Homo sapiens: one gene and its partners. The protein of the gene in region 1 interacts with the protein of each later gene in a pairwise test. Each region holds a gene or a part of one and is shown in the gene's direction. Other genes may lie near its edges.

Region 1 (3,500 bases):
TTTTGATAAATATTTGCTAAGTGTCCAGGCCCTTAGCTGGACATTTGGGAATTTGGGTTAGTGTTAGACACTGTTATCTTGGAGGAGCTTATAGTCTAGTTGGGGCCATAGAAGGGTCAAGAGGCACTCACAGAGGCTAGTGCAGTGGTAGAAGTGAGGTCCAGGCACTGCGGGAGCCTTGCGGGGAGCTGGAGGAGGGAGCAGGTGCCCCTGCAGAGGGACCCACTAACCTGGAACTTGTGATCTGTTTTAGAGGGACCTGGGCAGACAGGGCCATGCCAGCTGTGATAGAATTATGGATGGGGTGGGGTACAGAGTAATTTCATCTGAGGATTCAGGAAGGACTCCAAGAAGCAATGGCGGTCAACGAATTCTTATAGAGTCCCTACTCCGTGCATTTGAGTAATATTAAATTCATTGTTGAACTATGAATAGATGTTTTGTAGCTTGTAAGAGGGGAATTTAATTCTAGGGGAGCTGAGGAAGGTGGTCTTTTGAAAATGTTCTATACCTGGAAAATGACTTATCTCTTCTTGAAAAGCTAGTTGAATGAGTCAGTGAATGCATTTTAGATTATATCTTAAAAGTAAGGACCTAAGCTTTTGGGTGGCTTAGTGAACATAGAATGGCTGATGTAATTTCTTTTTTTTTTGAGACAGAGTGTCTTTCTGTCACCCAGGCTGGAGTGCAGTGGTGCCATCTTGGCTCACTGCAACTTCCACCTCCTGGGTTCAAGCGATTCTCCTGCCTCAGCCTCCGAGTAGCTGGGACTACAGGTGTGCGCTACCATGCCTAGCCAATTTTTGTATTTTTAGTAGAGACGGGGTTTCACCATGTTGACTAGGCTGGTCTTGATCTCTTGACCTCATGATCTGCCCGCCTAGACCTCCCAAAGTGTTGGAGTTACAGGCATAAGCCACCGCCCCCAGCCGGCTGATGCAATTAAAAAAAAAAAAAACTGGCCAGGCATGGTGGCTCACGCCTGTAACCCCAACACTTTGGGAGGCCACGCCAGGAGGATCACTTGAGGCCAGGAGTTCGAGACCAGCCTGGTCAACATAGCGAGACTTCGTCACTAGAAAAAATTTAAAAAATTTTTTAAAAAGGAAAAAATATAACTTAGAGCCCCCTATGAAAAACTAAATTAGCATCATGACAGGATACACTTTGGGGAGTGAAATTTCACAGTACCTTTATTTAATTCCAAGCCATAGAGCCTGGTAATATTTTTCTCTTTATCAGCTGTGGCACTAAAATAACAGTGGATTTTTTCCCTCTAGACATTCTTCTTTTGGCCGATGAAAAATTTGACTTCGATCTTTCATTGTCTTCTTCGAGGTAAACAAATGAGTTTTCTTCCCTTGCCTTGGGCATAACCACATTCAGTAAAGTCTTTCCTTTAAATGCCAGTGTTATGAGTTATTAATCATTCTTTTTTTAAACAAATAGTGCAAATGAAGATGATGAAGTCTTCTTCGGACCCTTTGGACATAAAGAAAGATGTATTGCTGCCAGCTTGGAATTAAATAATCCGGTTCCCGAACAGCCTCCGTTGCCCACATCTGAGAGTCCCTTTGCCTGGAGCCCTCTGGCCGGGGAGAAGTTCGTGGAGGTGTACAAAGAAGCTCACTTACTGGCTTTACACATTGAGAGCAGCAGCCGGAACCAGGCAGCCCAAGCTGCCAAGCCTGAAGACCCTCGGAGCCAGGGCGTGGAAAGATTCATACAGGAGTCAAAATTAAAAATAAACCTCTTTGAGAAAGAAAAGGAAATGAAGAAAAGCCCCACGTCTCTTAAAAGGGAGACATACTACCTGTCAGACAGCCCCTTGCTGGGGCCCCCTGTGGGTGAGCCTCGGCTCTTGGCCTCCTCCCCGGCCCTGCCCAGCTCTGGTGCCCAGGCCCGCCTCACCCGGGCGCCGGGGCCTCCGCACTCTGCTCATGCTTTGCCCAGGGAATCATGCACTGCTCATGCTGCAAGTCAGGCAGCGACTCAGAGGAAGCCCGGGACCAAATTGCTGCTGCCTCGAGCGGCCTCTGTTAGAGGAAGAAGCATCCCTGGGGCTGCGGAGAAGGTAAATGCCACAGCAGAGCGCCTGCCTGGGGAGCCCCCACTCCTTGCCCCTCAGCCCTCTCACAGAAGCCACATGCGGAAAGCCTCAGAGGTGGCGAGTCTCTGAGGCCTACAAAACACAGGAATGCGGAGTCCAGGAAAAGCAGTTGCCAATAGGGAGCTGATGTGGGGGTGGCTTGGATAAGTTGGGTTGACCTAATATTTCCTCCTAAATTCTGTCTGAAGTTGTTCCTTTTGTTTTGTTACAATGCTGGATATACCACACAGTAGGGATTTCATTTGCTTTAATAAGCAACCTCTTCCAAAAACTCCCCTCCTCTGCAATGGCTGCTAGTCAGCCTCCTTGACCGTGCCTCAGTTTACACTGCATTCCTCCTGGGCACTGAGTGAGGTGAGCTTTCCTGGGAGGTGGCAGTTGACAGGGGTGCCTTTGGGTGCAGTCTGCCTACTCTGGGACACTGAGGGTCCTGGAGGTCTGGGGGAAAGCTGGGTGTGAGCACAGGACTTGCTGCCAGGGCTGCCCGATCTGGCTCTTGCTCGGGAGAGGCCACAGAGAGGAAGACGGGGCGGGTGGGAGCCCCGGGGCCCACCCTGCAGCCCGTTCCCAGCTCTGCCCCCTCCCCTGGGCAGCACGTACAGAGGAATGACCCTGGGTGGGGCTGATAGGAGGTGCAGGCAAATGCAGAATGCTCAGCAAGGGCCCAGAAATTCCTTTACCCCCACCAAGCCCATCTCCTGAGCCACATGACTCCCTGTGGTGAGAGCCAAGGATGGAAGGCAGCCGAGGTGCAGCCGCCACGCCACACACTGCCCTTGACAAGGAGGTATGCCCGGCACTGCCACCCCCAACAGCTGGGGCCTGCAAACTCCTTTATTTGGAGCCCGTTTGGGATGTAGATTCCTACCGTGATGTTTCTAGAATGAGAGTGGGATGGGTCCTGCTGTGTGGAGCACACGTGGACTCGGGACAGGGATTGTGCATGTAGCACGCGTGGACTCGGGGAGAGAGGTGGTGTGATTTGGGCTGCTCCAGACCCATCGAAGTATCTCTTTTGATCTCCTGGTCCTGGGTGGTGAGCTGGGGTCCAGAGAGCTTGTTCCCAGTGGACAGGGCACTGTCCGCACAGCTGAGATGCACTCATGCACACGTGGGAGCCCCACCATGTCCTGCATGTTTCTCTGGGAGAAGTCACTTCTAGAGTGGCTCATGGCACATGCTCACTCCTGTGAGGAGTCATTAGCAATGGGTGGACCACTTGAGTGTAACACCTACTTACAAGTGTGCTTGACAGAGAACTGCTAGGATGCCTAAAGGAAGAAGAAAAAGAAAATAACAGGTGTTATTTTGAGGATGAGGATGTTGTGGAGGATGAGGAGAAGGCTGAGGATGTGGAGAAGCTGGAAGCTCACGCATTGCTGGTGGGACT
Region 2 (4,071 bases), on another chromosome or scaffold:
TGGTGAGAGGATTTATGATTAACCTGCGTTGTGACAAGAAACGTCGTCTTGTAAATAAGTATTTCCAGAGGAGACAGATTTCAGATGAGGAACTTGGAGCCCAGTAGTAATACTAATGCACCTGGAACAACAGATTACATGGTAAGTGACAGGTGAATGCGGGGGCACCAATGTAACAGAATCTTAAAGGGAGAGAGGCCAGATTTGAAAGAAAATTTTTTTTTATTAAAGTGGAGATGGTGGTACAACTGAAGAGGACTGCTAAGATTGTTAACGCACAGTCCCCCTCAATTTGTCCAGAGGATAACATATCCCTTCAGATACAAAGATTTTTTTTTTTGCTTGGCCAACTTTAGTCAGGTTTCTGAATCTTCTGCTAGGCTCTTCTGTACACTTTCTTTGTAAAATCCAGTTTAAGCAAAGAACTTTGCTAAGTCAGATTAGCAATAAACCCCCATCCTTGATAGCTGATCATCCTCAATATCTGATCAGGTTCTTCAGTCTCCACCATCCCCCAGGTGATGCCTCATTATCTTGGCCTGTCTTCAGCAAAAATCCTATTAGGTGGGTTTAGCCAAAATCCCCCTTACCCTGATGTTTCCTCTTAGTAATTATACATTCACTTACCACCGCTCCTTGGCTATAAATCTCCACTTGCCCATGCTGTATGAGGAGTTGAGCCCAATATCTCTTTCCCTACTGCAAGTCTCCATTGCAGTCAGTGGTCCCTATACCTGTTGCGATGGTCCTGAATAAAGCCCTCTTTTTGTGCTTTAACAAGTGTCACTAAATACTTTTTTCTTTAACAATAGCCCGTTCTCCAAACCCCTAACTCCAGAACTGTTTAGTTTTCAGGAAACCTGAGTGGGCCCAGGGTCTATACCATCGTGAGATTTGTGGGTTTAAGGCTGAATTTCTGCCCGTTTTTAGGTAAATGTTTTAGTGTGAAAGCTTGAACAATTGTAGGGAAAACCTTAGATTTGCCCCCAAAAATGACATTTTGCCGTTTTTGGTGGGGAGGGGTCAGGGCGCTGTGTTTAAGATCAGGCGTGTGAAAGCCCCTAAACGCCCTCCTTTCCTTTGGGAAGTCCCTATGGAGGGAAAGGCAGGTAGGCGCAGCGGTCCCCGCCCTCGCTCGCGGCGGGGCGGGGCGGGGCTGCGGGGGCGGGGCTGGGGCCGCACGGGCAGCGAGGATCCCTGGGAGGGCCAGGCCTGCGCGCTGCGAACCCACGTGACTTTTTCGCCTCCAGGGACACTGACGCATGCGCATCGTGCCCTGGACCAGGCGGCCGTGGCGCGGGTGGCGGCTGCTGTGCTGGCTGTGGGGACGGAGGCGGTGAAGTGCCATCTTCGGCTAGGTCGTCACAGGCTCCGGCTCATGGCATCAAGTGGCATCCATCATAAGGTCTGCTGGGGCGGGCTCCTTGAAATTAGCTGGGGCAGAGGGTGGTACTTGGTACTGAAAGGGGCCTGCCGGGTTTCAGGCCGCGCTCTGGCCGCGGCCTCCCTCTCCCGCCCTGTTTGAGGCCTGGCTCGGATTCAGCGCTCAGCTGTCCATTCCTTTCTCCTTCCCACCTGTTGGGTGGAGCGGTGCAAGGTATTTTTTTCTTAGACCAAACGTTTCACTTGAGGGGTGCGTTAGGTAGGGTGGAGAAGTGTGGGCCTCCTTCGCCTGGATTTAGGAAGATATTTGGGGGTAATTCTAAAGCCCTTGCTTCTCCCGGAGCTGGAACACGGCTGGGGTGGCTGGAAGTGGAAGGAGCACATTTGCAGCCGCCAGAGGATTGGGAAGATAATATACGTTCTATTACTAAGGCATGTGAGCGCCTTGTAGGGCACGTTCTGTCTTCTGACTACATAAGCAACACTTTTGCGACCCTAAGTCACAGCACCCACAGCTTTTGGCAGGATACTTTAAAACAGAAAAAACACATCATTGATCCTGGCAGGATTTTTTAAGGGATTGTGCTTAAGAATGTTTAACTTTGGTAATCAGAGACCACCACTGGTGTTTTTCTCCAAAATCACATCTTTAAGTTAATTAATACTTGAAGTTAATAAATAATACTGCTCAGTGTATTAGTAATGATGCCATAATACCATGTGAATTTATGCTGATTCAAATGTTGTTTTTTTCGTTTGATACTCATATGGCCTTCTGTTTGAGGACTTCAGATTATTTAGCAACTGATTTAATCTGTTCAGAAATAAACTTTGCTACAGCTGGAAAGCGTGAGGCTTGAGAAAGCAAGTTTTGGACAGGGACGTATGAAGCTCATGTTGAAACTTAAGTGTTTTAGGCTGTATGGGAGCTTGAATGGAGTGAAAAGAACAAGCGTCTACTGTCAGGTTTTCCTCCTCCCTCTAGATTTATAACCTCATTCTAGAGTTGCAAAAGTTGGAACTTTCCACTGTTCACTCTCTAGTAGGGATAAAGTGATGGAAAGGAGTTCTGTTAAAGAGGACTAGTACTTAGATTGTGAACTTTGAAGTAGGGGTTGAGCATAGATGGCTCATAGGTGGTATGAGACACTATTTGTGTAAAGTCTCAGAATATTTTTCCTTGCTTATAATTGAATAAGAAAGAAGATGTTTAAAAGTCAAATGATAAAAATTGTATGTGCTGTTTTCTGTGGTATGTTTTAACAAATCTACATGGAAGATAGGACTTCAAAAAAAATTAAAAATAGCCGAAGGAGGAAGAAGGTAGTGTAGTTCCAGCCAAATGGTACGTTTTCCAAAAAGCCGAAGATTGATGTAGACGTTTATGTAAATACATATACAAAATCTAGTTTCTGGAACACAGTGTTTAATATGTAGAGACTTTAAAAAGTCGGCGTGTGACTACTTAGCCCTTAAAAACAGCTGCCAAAACCAGTGGTTATGATAGTCTCTTTTCTTCTTACATCCCAAATCTCCAGATTGCCTTGTGGATGAGATTTGCTTATTGCAAAGCTACTTGTTTTGCTCTACCCAAAACTCCTTTCAGTCTTTAGTGATGACTTCAGATTTTTATATATTGCTGTGTTTATGAAAAAGAATAGTCAATGGTATAATTTTTAAGTACCTCTACAGGAATAAGAGGCATACAGAAAAAAAAAAAAAGGTATTAGGTCAAAAGATGGCATTTCACTCTCGTTGCCCAGGCTGGAGTGCAATGGCGCTATTGGCTCACCGCAACCTCCGCCTCCCGGGTTCAAGTCATTCTTCTGCCTCAGCCTCCCCAGTAGCTGGGATTACAGATGCGCGCCACCACGCCTAATTTTTTGTATTTTTAGTAGAAACGGGGTTTCACCATGTTAGCCAGGCTGGTCTAGAACTCCTGACTTCAGGTGATCTGCCTGCCTCGGCCTCCCAAAGTGCTGAGATGACAGGCATGAGCCACCGTGCCCGGCCCAAATGTCCCATTTTTAATTAAGTGTTAGTAATTGAAGTCATCCTCCAAAAGACCTTTTAAATTTTAAGATGGCATAATTGTCACTGAAATACTTAATGTACGTCATAATTATACTAAAAGTGAAAGGTATGATAAATGTATTTTTTATATATTGCCTATTCACTTTATGTTATGTTTCATTTTATACTTGTGTCCTTTGTGCCTATCATATGATTTTATAATAAAGTGTAATGTAGTGAAAAGGAATCGACTGGTTTGGTGAGTTGAAAAAGGGAGGACTTTTATTAGTCTGGGGGAACAGCTTTTGTCAAGGCTCAGAAAGGAAAAATCTAAGGGACTCTGGAAATGGCAATGAGGAGGAGTATTGTAAGATTAATACTTTTGGAAAGTTAAGTTGAGACTGGATATATCATTCAGAGATATTTGTTGTGCTGTTACACGGCAAGTATTATTTCAGGTTCAAGGGGGACAGCGGTGAACAAAACTGATAAGGCCTCATTCTCACCCAATTTAATTTTTTTTTCCTTTTACTCTTGTTGAGCTGTGATCAGGAAATTTAATATTCGAGTAATATTAGTTTGCAGTAGTGCAGCAGTGTTTCTCAGTTTTTTTTTTTTTTTTTTTTTTTACTGCAGCCCACAATAAGATGTACATGGACATCACTAACTCAATAA
Region 3 (3,500 bases), on another chromosome or scaffold:
ATTAAATTTTATTTTCATCATTCCTTTTAGGCAAAAAACGGAAACTGTAAAACAAGAAAATGCTGCAGTTCAGAAGATGGTTGAAAATTTAAAGAAACAGGTAAGGAAATACTTAATATTTCTCAATGTTTTTTGATTCCAAAATTTTCCCATTTTTTGAAATTTATAAATTTACAGCACACGGTAATGAATAGCATATAGCTAATGATGGTAAGGTTGTAAATTCTGAATTTGAAAATGGAAACTTACCTCATACTGACTCTAAACTAGCTTCCTGTTTTATGTTAAATAATGTATATATTATTCTAGGCCCTAAGTGCTTGATAAAGCTTTATCATCAGCAGAATTGAGGAGGTGATACCTCTAAAACCATACCTACGAAATATTAGCTGTAGCCCTTGTGCAGTTTCAGTTAATGTTAGCCCTTCCTTTTTCCTCACCATGATTGAAAGCAGAAAGTTAAGGGCAGAATTTCACATATACAGAATGCCAGCTAATCAGCATATCATTTCACAGAATTACATTTTATTCAGATAGCTGGTGCCATTCAGTGCTCAATTTGTATAATCTTACAACATGCAGTTATAAAAAGGGAAGGCCATTTAAGAATCTGTCTGAAGCAGTCAAAAGACAAGGACATATTGGGAAAGAGTATTTTCAGCACTTGAAATAGACAAGGTGTTAACATCCAAAATGTATTTTGGACTCTTACAAATAAATGGGAAAATCCAGTTGAAATATAGGCAATCTATATGAATGGTCAAGTCACAGAAAAAAAAAAGAATACAAAAGATGGTTAGCCTTATTAGTGATTAGAGAAGTGCAAATTCAATAAGCGTCTTTTTTTTAACCTATTGAATTAGCAAGAAGTAAAGATTGATATCTAGTATTTAAAAGGATGTGAGGAAATGACTGTGCCCATGCATTGTTGTTAGGATTATAAGGTGGTAGCACTGTGAGGAAGACATATTAGAGATATCTGTTGAAACAATAATGAATATATATCTATATACAGATCTTCTAACCCAGCAATCCTACTTCTAAAAAATAATTCTAAATACAAAATACTACCATGTATAAATGGATTTTCTAAAAGATCCATTTAAAAGAAATAATGATTTTAAAAACTTTATGTCTATCAACGTGGGAACAGATAAATGCATTATGGAATATCTTACTACATGGAATATCCTATAGCCAGTAAAAAGTAGTATGTGGTGGTTGCTGAACACACTGACTTGGAAAGAGTCTTTTTTCCTTTTGAGACGGAGTTTCGCTCTTGTTGCCCAGGCTGGAGTGCAATGGCGCAATCTCAGCTCACTGCAACTTCTGCCCCCTGGGTTCAAGCGATTCTCCTGTCTCAGCCTCCCAAATAGCTGGGATTACAGGCACATGCCACCACACCCGGCTAATTTTTGTATTTTTAGTAGAGATGGGGTTTCATCATATTGTTCAGGCTGGTCTCGAACTCCTGACCTCAGGTGATCCGCCTGTCTCGGCGTCCCAAAGTGCTGGGATTACAGGCGTGAGCCACCGTGCCCACCTGGAAAGAGTCTTTAAGTAAGTAAGTAGAAAAAGCAAGCTGTCCAAACATAAAATTTCCAAATTTTGCTAAAGAGAAGAAAAGAATCTGTATGTGTGTATGGGTTCTGTATATGCGTAGAAAATGATCTGGAGGGACACATATCCAGCTGTGGACAATGGGCTCCCCTGTAGAGTGGGGTCAGACTGAGTGTCTCACTTCTTCATACACTTGTGAATGGAATGAATTTGTAATAATGAGTGTGTATTATTTCTGTTTTGAAATATATATATATTTTAAACTTTATATAAAGAGGGAAAAGACAATTATGTCTCTAAATCTGTTTTTTTTTTTTTTTAGCACAAGTAGGGTAACAAGTTTGAAAAACTTATTTTAATTTTAATTAGATTTCAGAATTAAAAATCAAAAACCAACAATTGGATTTGGAAAATACAGAACTTAGCCAAAAGAACTCTCAAAACCAGGAAAAACTGCAAGAACTTAATCAACGTCTAACAGAAATGCTATGCCAGAAGGAAAAAGAGCCAGGAAACAGTGCATTGGAGGAACGGGAACAAGAGAAGTTTAATCTGAAAGAAGAACTGGAACGTTGTAAAGTGCAGGTATGGCCTGTAGCCACCTGACAGCTTTTTTTGAGGAAATCCCAAGAAATAGAAGAAATGTTTGTATTAAACTTCCTTAAACATAAAGCCTTAGTAATTAAAACAGTATGGTCCTGGCACATGAATAGATAAGTAGGTAAGTGGAATAGAAAGTCTAGAATTAGACCCAAATACAAATGGAAACGTAGTGTATAACCAGGGCCACTTCTCAAACCACTGGGGTAAAGATGGACTTTTAAATTAATGGTGCCTGAACAACTGAGTAGACATTCGGAAATAGATAAAATTAGACCTATGTTTCATTCCATGCACAAGGATAAACTTAATTGGATTAGGAGACTAAATATAAAAAAAAAAAACTATACAAATATTTGAAGAAAATACGGGTGAATTTGTCTTTAACCCTGGTGTAAAGAAAGGCTATTTAACTGTAACTCAAAAACCGGAGGCAATAAAAGAAAACACTGATTATATGTTAAAAAAAGTTTACTTGGCAAAAAGATACCATAAACAAAGTTAGAAGACAGCTGACAAACTAGGAGAAAATATTCACAACATATACCACAGTGAGAAGGCCTAATATCCCTGCTAGTAAAGAACTCTTAAAAATGGAGGGACATGGGACCAAAAATTTGATAGCAAAATGGGAGAAGCATACGAACAAATAAATCATATACAAAAGATAAAAATGGGCCAGGCGTGGTGTCTCACACCTGTAATCCCAGCACTTTGGGAGGCCGAGGCAGGAGAATAGCTTGAGCCTAGGAGTTCAAGACCAGCCTGGACAACATAACAAGACTCCATCTCTACAAAAAGTTTAAAAATTGGCTGGGTGTAGTGGCACACACCTGTGGTCCTAGCTACTCAGGAAGCTGAGGCAGGAGGATCCCTTGAGGCTGTACCACTACACTCTAGCCTGGGTGAGACCCTATCTCTAAATAATAAAATAAAATTATTAAAATGGCCCTCAAATCTATGGAAAAATGTTCAGAATCACTCAAAATTAGAGAAACGCAAATTAAAACAACACTTGTATAATTTCTCACCTATAAGACTGGCATCAATTTTAAAATATGACAGCATACTCTGTTGGCAAGGCTGTGGGGAAACAGACTCTTTCATGCTTTGCTGGGAGAATACAAACTGGTACCGCCTTTTTGTAGGTGAATTTGACAATACCTAACAAAATTACATATGTACCTAGCTTTTGCCCTGGAAATCTCACTTCTAGGAATCTACCCTAAAGATACCACCGCAACAATATGAAAACTCATATGCAGAGGGTTACTCACTGCAGCACTGTTTCTAATTGCAAAATGGTGGAAACAACATAGATGCTGATGTGTAGGAGAGTA

Evidence for each region.
Region 2: the proteins of GTSE1 (region 1) and PRPF39 interact in a two-hybrid assay, tested with the Homo sapiens proteins (one large-scale study listed by BioGRID).
Region 3: the proteins of GTSE1 (region 1) and NIN interact in a two-hybrid assay, tested with the Homo sapiens proteins (one large-scale study listed by BioGRID).

What each region holds. Positions count from the first base shown.
Region 1 is NC_000022.11:46,306,870-46,310,369, forward strand, and holds part of GTSE1 (G2 and S phase-expressed protein 1), read left to right. Parts: intron 1-1,280; coding exon 1,281-1,338; intron 1,339-1,449; coding exon 1,450-2,074; intron 2,075-3,500. UniProt on the Homo sapiens protein: May be involved in p53-induced cell cycle arrest in G2/M phase by interfering with microtubule rearrangements that are required to enter mitosis. Overexpression delays G2/M phase progression.
Region 2 is NC_000014.9:45,082,845-45,086,915, forward strand, and holds the start of PRPF39 (pre-mRNA-processing factor 39), read left to right. Parts: upstream 1-1,271; 5' UTR 1,272-1,405; intron 1,406-4,071. UniProt on the Homo sapiens protein: Involved in pre-mRNA splicing.
Region 3 is NC_000014.9:50,751,163-50,754,662, reverse strand, and holds part of NIN (ninein), read left to right. Parts: intron 1-30; coding exon 31-100; intron 101-1,929; coding exon 1,930-2,145; intron 2,146-3,500. UniProt on the Homo sapiens protein: Centrosomal protein required in the positioning and anchorage of the microtubule minus-end in epithelial cells. May also act as a centrosome maturation factor.